Homo sapiens: one gene and its partner. The protein of the gene in region 2 purifies or fractionates together with the protein of the main gene of each other region. This does not show direct contact. Each region holds a gene or a part of one and is shown on either strand. Other genes may lie near its edges.

The links. Proteins that work in one complex are often made in the same cells at the same time.
Region 1: the proteins of COL5A2 (region 2) and P4HA2 purify together in Homo sapiens (co-immunoprecipitation; one large-scale study listed by IntAct). This does not show direct contact.

What each region holds. Positions count from the first base shown.
Region 1 is NC_000005.10:132,193,354-132,196,853, forward strand, and holds part of P4HA2 (prolyl 4-hydroxylase subunit alpha-2 isoform 2 precursor), read right to left. Parts: intron 2,128-3,500; coding exon 2,059-2,127; intron 1,670-2,058; coding exon 1,573-1,669; intron 1-1,572. UniProt on the Homo sapiens protein: Catalyzes the post-translational formation of 4-hydroxyproline in -Xaa-Pro-Gly- sequences in collagens and other proteins.
Region 2 is NC_000002.12:189,057,762-189,061,261, reverse strand, and holds part of COL5A2 (collagen alpha-2(V) chain preproprotein), read left to right. Parts: intron 1-478; coding exon 479-532; intron 533-2,368; coding exon 2,369-2,413; intron 2,414-2,734; coding exon 2,735-2,833; intron 2,834-3,500. UniProt on the Homo sapiens protein: Type V collagen is a member of group I collagen (fibrillar forming collagen). It is a minor connective tissue component of nearly ubiquitous distribution. Type V collagen binds to DNA, heparan sulfate, thrombospondin, heparin, and insulin.

The sequences.
Region 1 (3,500 bases), on a different chromosome or scaffold from region 2:
TGACCTTTGATGCCCTTTGGCTCTATTCCCATGGCAACCTGCACACATGTTTCTTGCTCTTAGAGGGAAGAGGAAATCCTAGGGCTAGAATATAAAGCTACATAGAAGTTATCCTGGGAAGAAGATGGGCATACCCAGATGGTTCTCTCACCAAGAGGGTCCCAGGAGTGACAACAGGATGAGAAAGTAATCAAGGCAGAAGCCACCCTGACGTGTGTTGGGGACTCAAGAGGCCTAATATTACTGGGAGGTGGCAGGTAGAAACTGAGAGGTAGGGTGTGAGGATGAGGAAGACTGTCAGCATTGCAGAGGGCTTGGACATTAACCTCAGGAGCCGTGGACCAGCAGATCCAGTCTGTATGCCATGGGCACAAGAGCAACAGAGCTGCTGCCAGCACTATCACCCCACGCCATATCTTCAAACACACAGGAACCATGATTCTGTTCCTCACAGACTCTCTCATAATGAATAAAAATTTTATTTCAATGCACTACTGAAGTCACAGAGCTTTTAAAATATAAAGTAATAACATGTACTTCATTGAAAAAAATAAAATTGTCGCAAGGCTTATAATGATAAATAGCACTCCTCCTAAGCCTCTCCTTCCCATCCCTAATCTCCACTCCCAGGGAACATTAAACTCCTCTAGCTGTTTCTTCTGATATTTAACCTCATTTTTCTAGATAAGATGCTTATAGTTCTATTCCTTGACTTTCAACTTTGGAATTCTTTTATTCTACCCCTAAAACACAAACTCATCCCCTCCCACCTTTCCAGTACAGGTAAATCATAAGTTTTAGTTAAAGTAATACTCAGTGTGTACATAATTATATCATGTGTTACACCTGAGCCATCTAGTAGATTATACTTACATTTCCTTTCTTGTACAACTTTTTTTCCCCTGAATTCAGCAACTGCCTTGTTTTCTTTTCCATTTGCTTAATTATCTGCAAACCTATCACTATTTATCTTCAAAACTCTCCAAGGGGGCTACACACTCATCTCCTTACAAACACTTCCTGTCATATCCTGGTTTGAGCCTCTCCGAGGCTCACCACAACTGCTCCCAGGATAAGGCTCAAGCTTGAGCCTCTGCAGTTTGGTCCCAGCCTCCAGCCTCATCTTCTGGCCCCTGTGCCACAGGCCTCCCTTTCTTCAAGTGACAAGGGAGCCAGCCCCCACACCCGTATGCTGGTTTTAGCCTGTGCCTCCATCCATATGGGCCTTGTTTGCCTGAGACACTCTTTCCCCTCACTGCTTCCAGCTCTCCACTCTGCTCCCTCAGAAGCCTTGCCAGAGGGTCCTGGACCTATGGTGCTTATGCAGCTATTCGTCCTCAGGCCTTCTTCAGCTTCCTGTGTATCTCTGAGTGTTTCCAACCAGCTGCCTTGGCATTTACCAGCTGCATGGACATTACATGGCTGGATGGTAATAACAGCAGAAAAAAACCTAAGAAGGGAGACAGTCTCAGCAAATTTGGCAGCAGTTGCCTCCCAGCTCAGAATCTAAGGCCAATAAGCAAAGCCCAAGCTGAGGCCACCAACACCAACACTACCCCTTAAGACACTCACCCCACTTGCAGCCCACAAGCACAGGGCAGGCAGCATGTCTTGTTCGGTAGTCACCTTCCCCGCTCCGCAAGAGGTTGTACCAGAACACAGCTGTACCCTGGGAAAGAGATGGCCTTTCAGAACACATTCTTAAGAGACTGTGCTCAGGGACCTGACTGCAAGCATCACAGAAGCTCTGCCCTGAGCAGAAACACCCTCATTTTCCCATGGACAGGGGATAGGGCTCTGGGACTCCAGCAACAGAGACATTTCCCAGAAAGCACCTACCTTTCTGAGGTAGAAGTCTGGGAACTCACCCGCCCCTGAAGGGACTTCCCTCCCTGTCCTTTCTTCACAGGGAGAAGCTGGGCTACCAGGTCAGACCCCAGGTGGGCTAAGGCACATCACAGTGACAATCAGGCAGGCCAGGTAATGGTACTGGGGGACATGGACAAAGTAAAGTCTGAGCCTTGCTTCAACCTCTGACCCACAAGAATCAGAACTTACCTTCTTAGGCCAAATTGCAGCCCCCAGATCAGGGAAGACGGTGGCACCACCAGCTTCTACATCACTCATCTGGAAATATAAGACATAGAGCTTGACCCTCCTACCCAAGGCTCTCAGAGCAATTGAGCCACAAAGGACATGACAAGGTATATAGATTGCCCTCCTCTCAGCATGAGTGACACTACTTGGTGTCTGCTCCATGGCCAGCCCTTTAGCCAAGAAAGGCTCTTCCCATGCCTACTTAACCAGTGTGATTCATTAGAACAGTCTCCATGTCATGAGTGTTCAAGAGTTGAGGCCCACAGGAGACCCACATCCGGGCTGTCCCTGGATGAAAATAATCTGAGTCTGTACTCAGAAAATGCCTGTTCTGACCCCACCCTTTGAATCCCCATCTAGCCTTGGCCTTGCCTAAGCCACTGTACTCTGCAAAGTGCCCTGACCAGGAGCTCTGTACTGTTTCCAACACCATGTGCAGTCCCCACTGCAGCTCTGTTTCTCTGGCTCTAGTAGTTTGCTGCTCTAGTCAGACCTTCACCTTCCCAGAGTAGCCACCCTTCCTGGGGCCAACTGAGTGGAAGGGTGGGGCACTGTGTCTCTAGAGGCCCTGCTTTCTCCTATGGTAAGGCCTTAAACTACATTGAACACAAGTTCCACACTAGCAAGGCTGTACTCATGCCCACAGAGCATGCCTTGACTCATGGCCAAAGCACTACTTCTTTCCCATCTGGCTCTCTTACTTTTTTTGTCCATAATTTAATAAAAATTGGAGGTAAAAAATATTTCCACAGGACACATACCAGACTCACTGAAGGGTACTTGACAGACATATGGTAAATGAATAAGACAAAAGCTCTGATGGCTTCTCACAGCCCTGTGGATCAAACTCAGATTCTTTTCTAGAACCCCAAGGCCCTGTCAGTCTCACTAGCCTCTCTCCAGACACACCAGCCTTTTTCTACCTTTCCAACATCCCAAGTTCCTTTTCTCTTACAGGACTACATACACTCTCTCTTCTGCCAGAAACCATGTTCTACCAGCTAATTTCCACTCAACTTTTAAGTCTCAACTGATATGTTACTTCCAAAGAGAGGCCTCCACTGAACCCCAAGCCTGGGGTTCACAGCACCTGTCTCCATAACTACATAATAATCTCTCTGATGTTTAGGCTGGGCATGGTGGCTCACGCCTGTAATGCCAGCACTTTGGGAGGCCAAGGCGGGTGGATCACTTGAGGTCAGGAGCTTGAGACCAGTCTGGCCAAGATGGTGAAACCTCATCTCTACTAAAAATACAAAAATTAGCTGGGCATGGTGGTGCACGCCTATAATCCCAGCTACTTGGGAGGCTGAGGCAGGAGAATCGCTTGAACCTGGGAGGCAGAGTTTGCAGTAAGCTGAGATAGCGCCACTGCACTCCAGCCTGGGCAACAGAGGGAGAGT
Region 2 (3,500 bases):
ACCATTTTAAGGCTGATTTTGTTTTATCGGCACAGTGACTAGAATTTTTTATTGAACAAAGTTTCATAATTTATCTACATATATCAGTATGTACATTATTTAATAGGAGGAAGATCATAATTTGTAAAAAAAACTTTCTGGACTGACTTTAAATAATATTCTAGCAGTCTAAAATATTGTTCACAGAGCCATAAAAACTCTATAAATATGAAGAAGCTCCTGTTACATTATCTCTTTTTTTGCTAAGTGGTGTGCAGATGAAAATACAATCCTATAAATTGACTAGCTGTTGTGTTTTATTGGTAGTCTTTTTTTAATGCTTCTGAACAATATTTTTTACTTAAAATGTCTGAACAATATATTTTCATTGAAAATATAGTCTTGGAGACCCCATGAATTGTAAAAGGTAAACTGTTAACACTGGTAGCCTGTTAAACTTACACAGATTCACAATTTTATTTTCTTACTTTTGTTTTAGGGGCTTCCTGGTCCTCCAGGGCCTCCTGGAGAAGGTGGAAAACCAGGTGATCAAGTAAGTGTTTAAATAATAATAATGGCAACACTATACATTGCTGGCTCAATTATCACTTTTTATGTGTGAGGCTCTGTTGTGCTTTCCTTTACATACATTATCTCTTTGAGTTCTCAAAGCAGCCCTATGTACTAGGTACTATCATTATCTCCATTTTGTAGATGAGGAAAATGGGGCATACAGATGTTAGATAACTTTCCCAAAGTCACACAGTTAATAGATTTGAACCCAGGTCATCTGCTTCCCAAGATGTGTTCTTAACCACTTTATATAAACAGTTATGGACAAATACTAACAATTTTATTCTGTCGTTTTCCTGGCTCATAGATTTATTTATTTTTCTTTGAATGATTCATTTGTTCATTTAATCATTTAATAAATATTTGCTGAACACTCTGTGTGCTTGCCTCTACAAAGCACTGGCCTGAACCAGCTGAACAAAATGGATTTGGACCTTGCTGTCCTTACAGTATAGTAGGATTCAGAGAGTATAGGACAATTACAATAATAGCATGCTCTAAATGCTATAATAAGGGAGGTACTATGTTTATGGAAACAAAAAAGATGCACCTAAATAAGACTTGGGGGTTTTAGGAAAGGTTTTCCAGACAAAGTAATATCTTTTATGAGATCTGAGAGATGAATGATGATAATGATGAAGGAGGGAAGATAGGAAAAACCTCCAGGAAATGAGACAAGCTTACAAATCAGAGTGGGTAATGTAATTTGGGGAAAATAGAAAGGGGGCTGCAGGGTGACTCAGGGGCCTGATTATGGAGGGCTTTAATTTGATTCTAATTTGTTCTTCATCATTAGAGTAATGGGAAGCTAAGGAAGAGTTTTTAGGCTGGGCACAGTGGCTCACACCTGTAATCCCAGCACTTTGGGAGACTGAGGCAGGTGAATCACTTGGCATCAGGAGTTCGAGACCAGCCTGGCCAACCGTCTGTACTAAAAATACAAAAATTACCTGGGCATGGTGGCACATGCCTGTATTCCCAGCTACTTGGGAGGCTGAGGCAGGAGAATCACTTTAATCCAGGAGGTGGAGGTTGCAGTGAGCCAAGATCATGCCACCATTGTACTCCAGCCTGGGTGATAGAGCGAGACAACGTCTCAAAAAAAAAAAAAAAAAAAAAAAAAACCAGAAAAGAAAAAAGAAGGGTTTTTAAGGAAGGAGTAATATGATAAGATTAGGGAGATCAGGCCACAGTGAGGACAGTCCATTTCGGAGAATAAGATTGGAGGCCTATTTGATAAAGTTATCTTTATCAAAGAAAGAAATTTCAAATTGACAAACTTTCTTTTATGTAAGAACAAACAAACTTTTAATTTAGACATGACTGCACTGGTTTGAATGCACAATACCTAGTAGAGTGCTTTGTCCATATTATAGGCTCAAGAAAGATTTACTTAATTGAGTAGAATTGGATTGGTTCTATTTAAAAGACCAACTCTTTAGCCCTTTTTATATAACTTTTCTTTATTTAAACTTTTTCATCTTCCATTAGTTTAAAAAAAGACATTTAGCATGTATTTTGTTGCCTCTAAAAAACTAATGCTCTATCTTTGTGAAATAGTACTTTGCATGTTCTCATTGCCAAAAATCAAACATTCAGGTATAATACAAAGTTTTTTGGAAAAATGTTTTCATCTAAAACATGTAATATTCCCTCATTTATAAAAATATACGTACTTTTCTTTCTTTAAATTGTTGGCTTATGCAGCCTTCTAATGGCACATTAATAGAAACTAGGTGTATGAACTGGAAAGTTTTCTGATAAATGCCTAAACTCAAAGCTCTTGTTCCATTAAAAAAAAAAAATGTGTTTATAGGGTGTTCCTGGAGATCCCGGAGCAGTTGGCCCGTTAGGACCTAGAGTAAGTATTTTAATCTTCATGATTAATGTTGTTTCCCACTGGCTTCAGTTTTAAAAGGTGTCTTTTAAAATCTTAAACTGGGATTTATTTTAACCTATAAATTCTTTGACTGGATAAAAATTAATTTTATGAGAAATATTTTGTGCTATGAAACTAGCATATCCTTACTTCAAATTTATTTCTTATCACTAAATTAGAAAATTGAGATTTAGTAATGTCTCATTTCTGAATTTTTCCGCAGTAGAAGCCATTTCTCAGAAACATTTTGACCTATTTTTAGATCAAGTATTGAGATTATTTGACATCCCAATTTTGTGCTAGGGAGAACGAGGAAATCCTGGGGAAAGAGGAGAACCTGGGATAACTGGACTCCCTGGTGAGAAGGGAATGGCTGGAGGACATGGTCCTGATGGCCCAAAAGTAAGTGTCATAGTGATCTCAGTGTTTTAAAATGCTTTAAAATTACTGCTTAATAAACGCATGATGGTGTGAGAATGCATTTGTCTTGTTTTTGAAAGATAATTTGATTATATCATTTTCTTCTTCCACAAATATTTAATGAGCGCTTACTAGGCTTTTTCCTTGCAACTAAAGTGTCAGCTAAAAAGAAGACTCTCTTCTTTGATGGGGATTGTAGTTTAGTGCACATGGTGATAGACTTCCATATACAAACACATTTCTAATGTTTATGTACATTTTATTAGTGGCTTCTATGAATAAACAGAGGAAAGAAATAGAAAATTACATAATTTATTAGGAGGCTTTTCTAATAATATGCTCCATTTTCCTTGTCTCAGGTTTCACAATTCTGCTTACTACATATGTGAAAATATGGAACTTTTAAAATCTGAAAATATAATGCATCATAAGGCAGAAATGTGTGCCATTTAGTGATTGGTAGAAAATAATGTGGCCAACTTCAGTATAAACAATTGAAGTAGAATTTTTCATGGTCATGTGACATGAGACCCCTTATTATTTTCAGGGTTTAGAGTGATTGATGCAGTCTACTACAATTTAGACACTATATTAGCCTGAAAACCAGGTTAATATCAAATATCAGTTTCATTAAAGAGAGAATGAAATA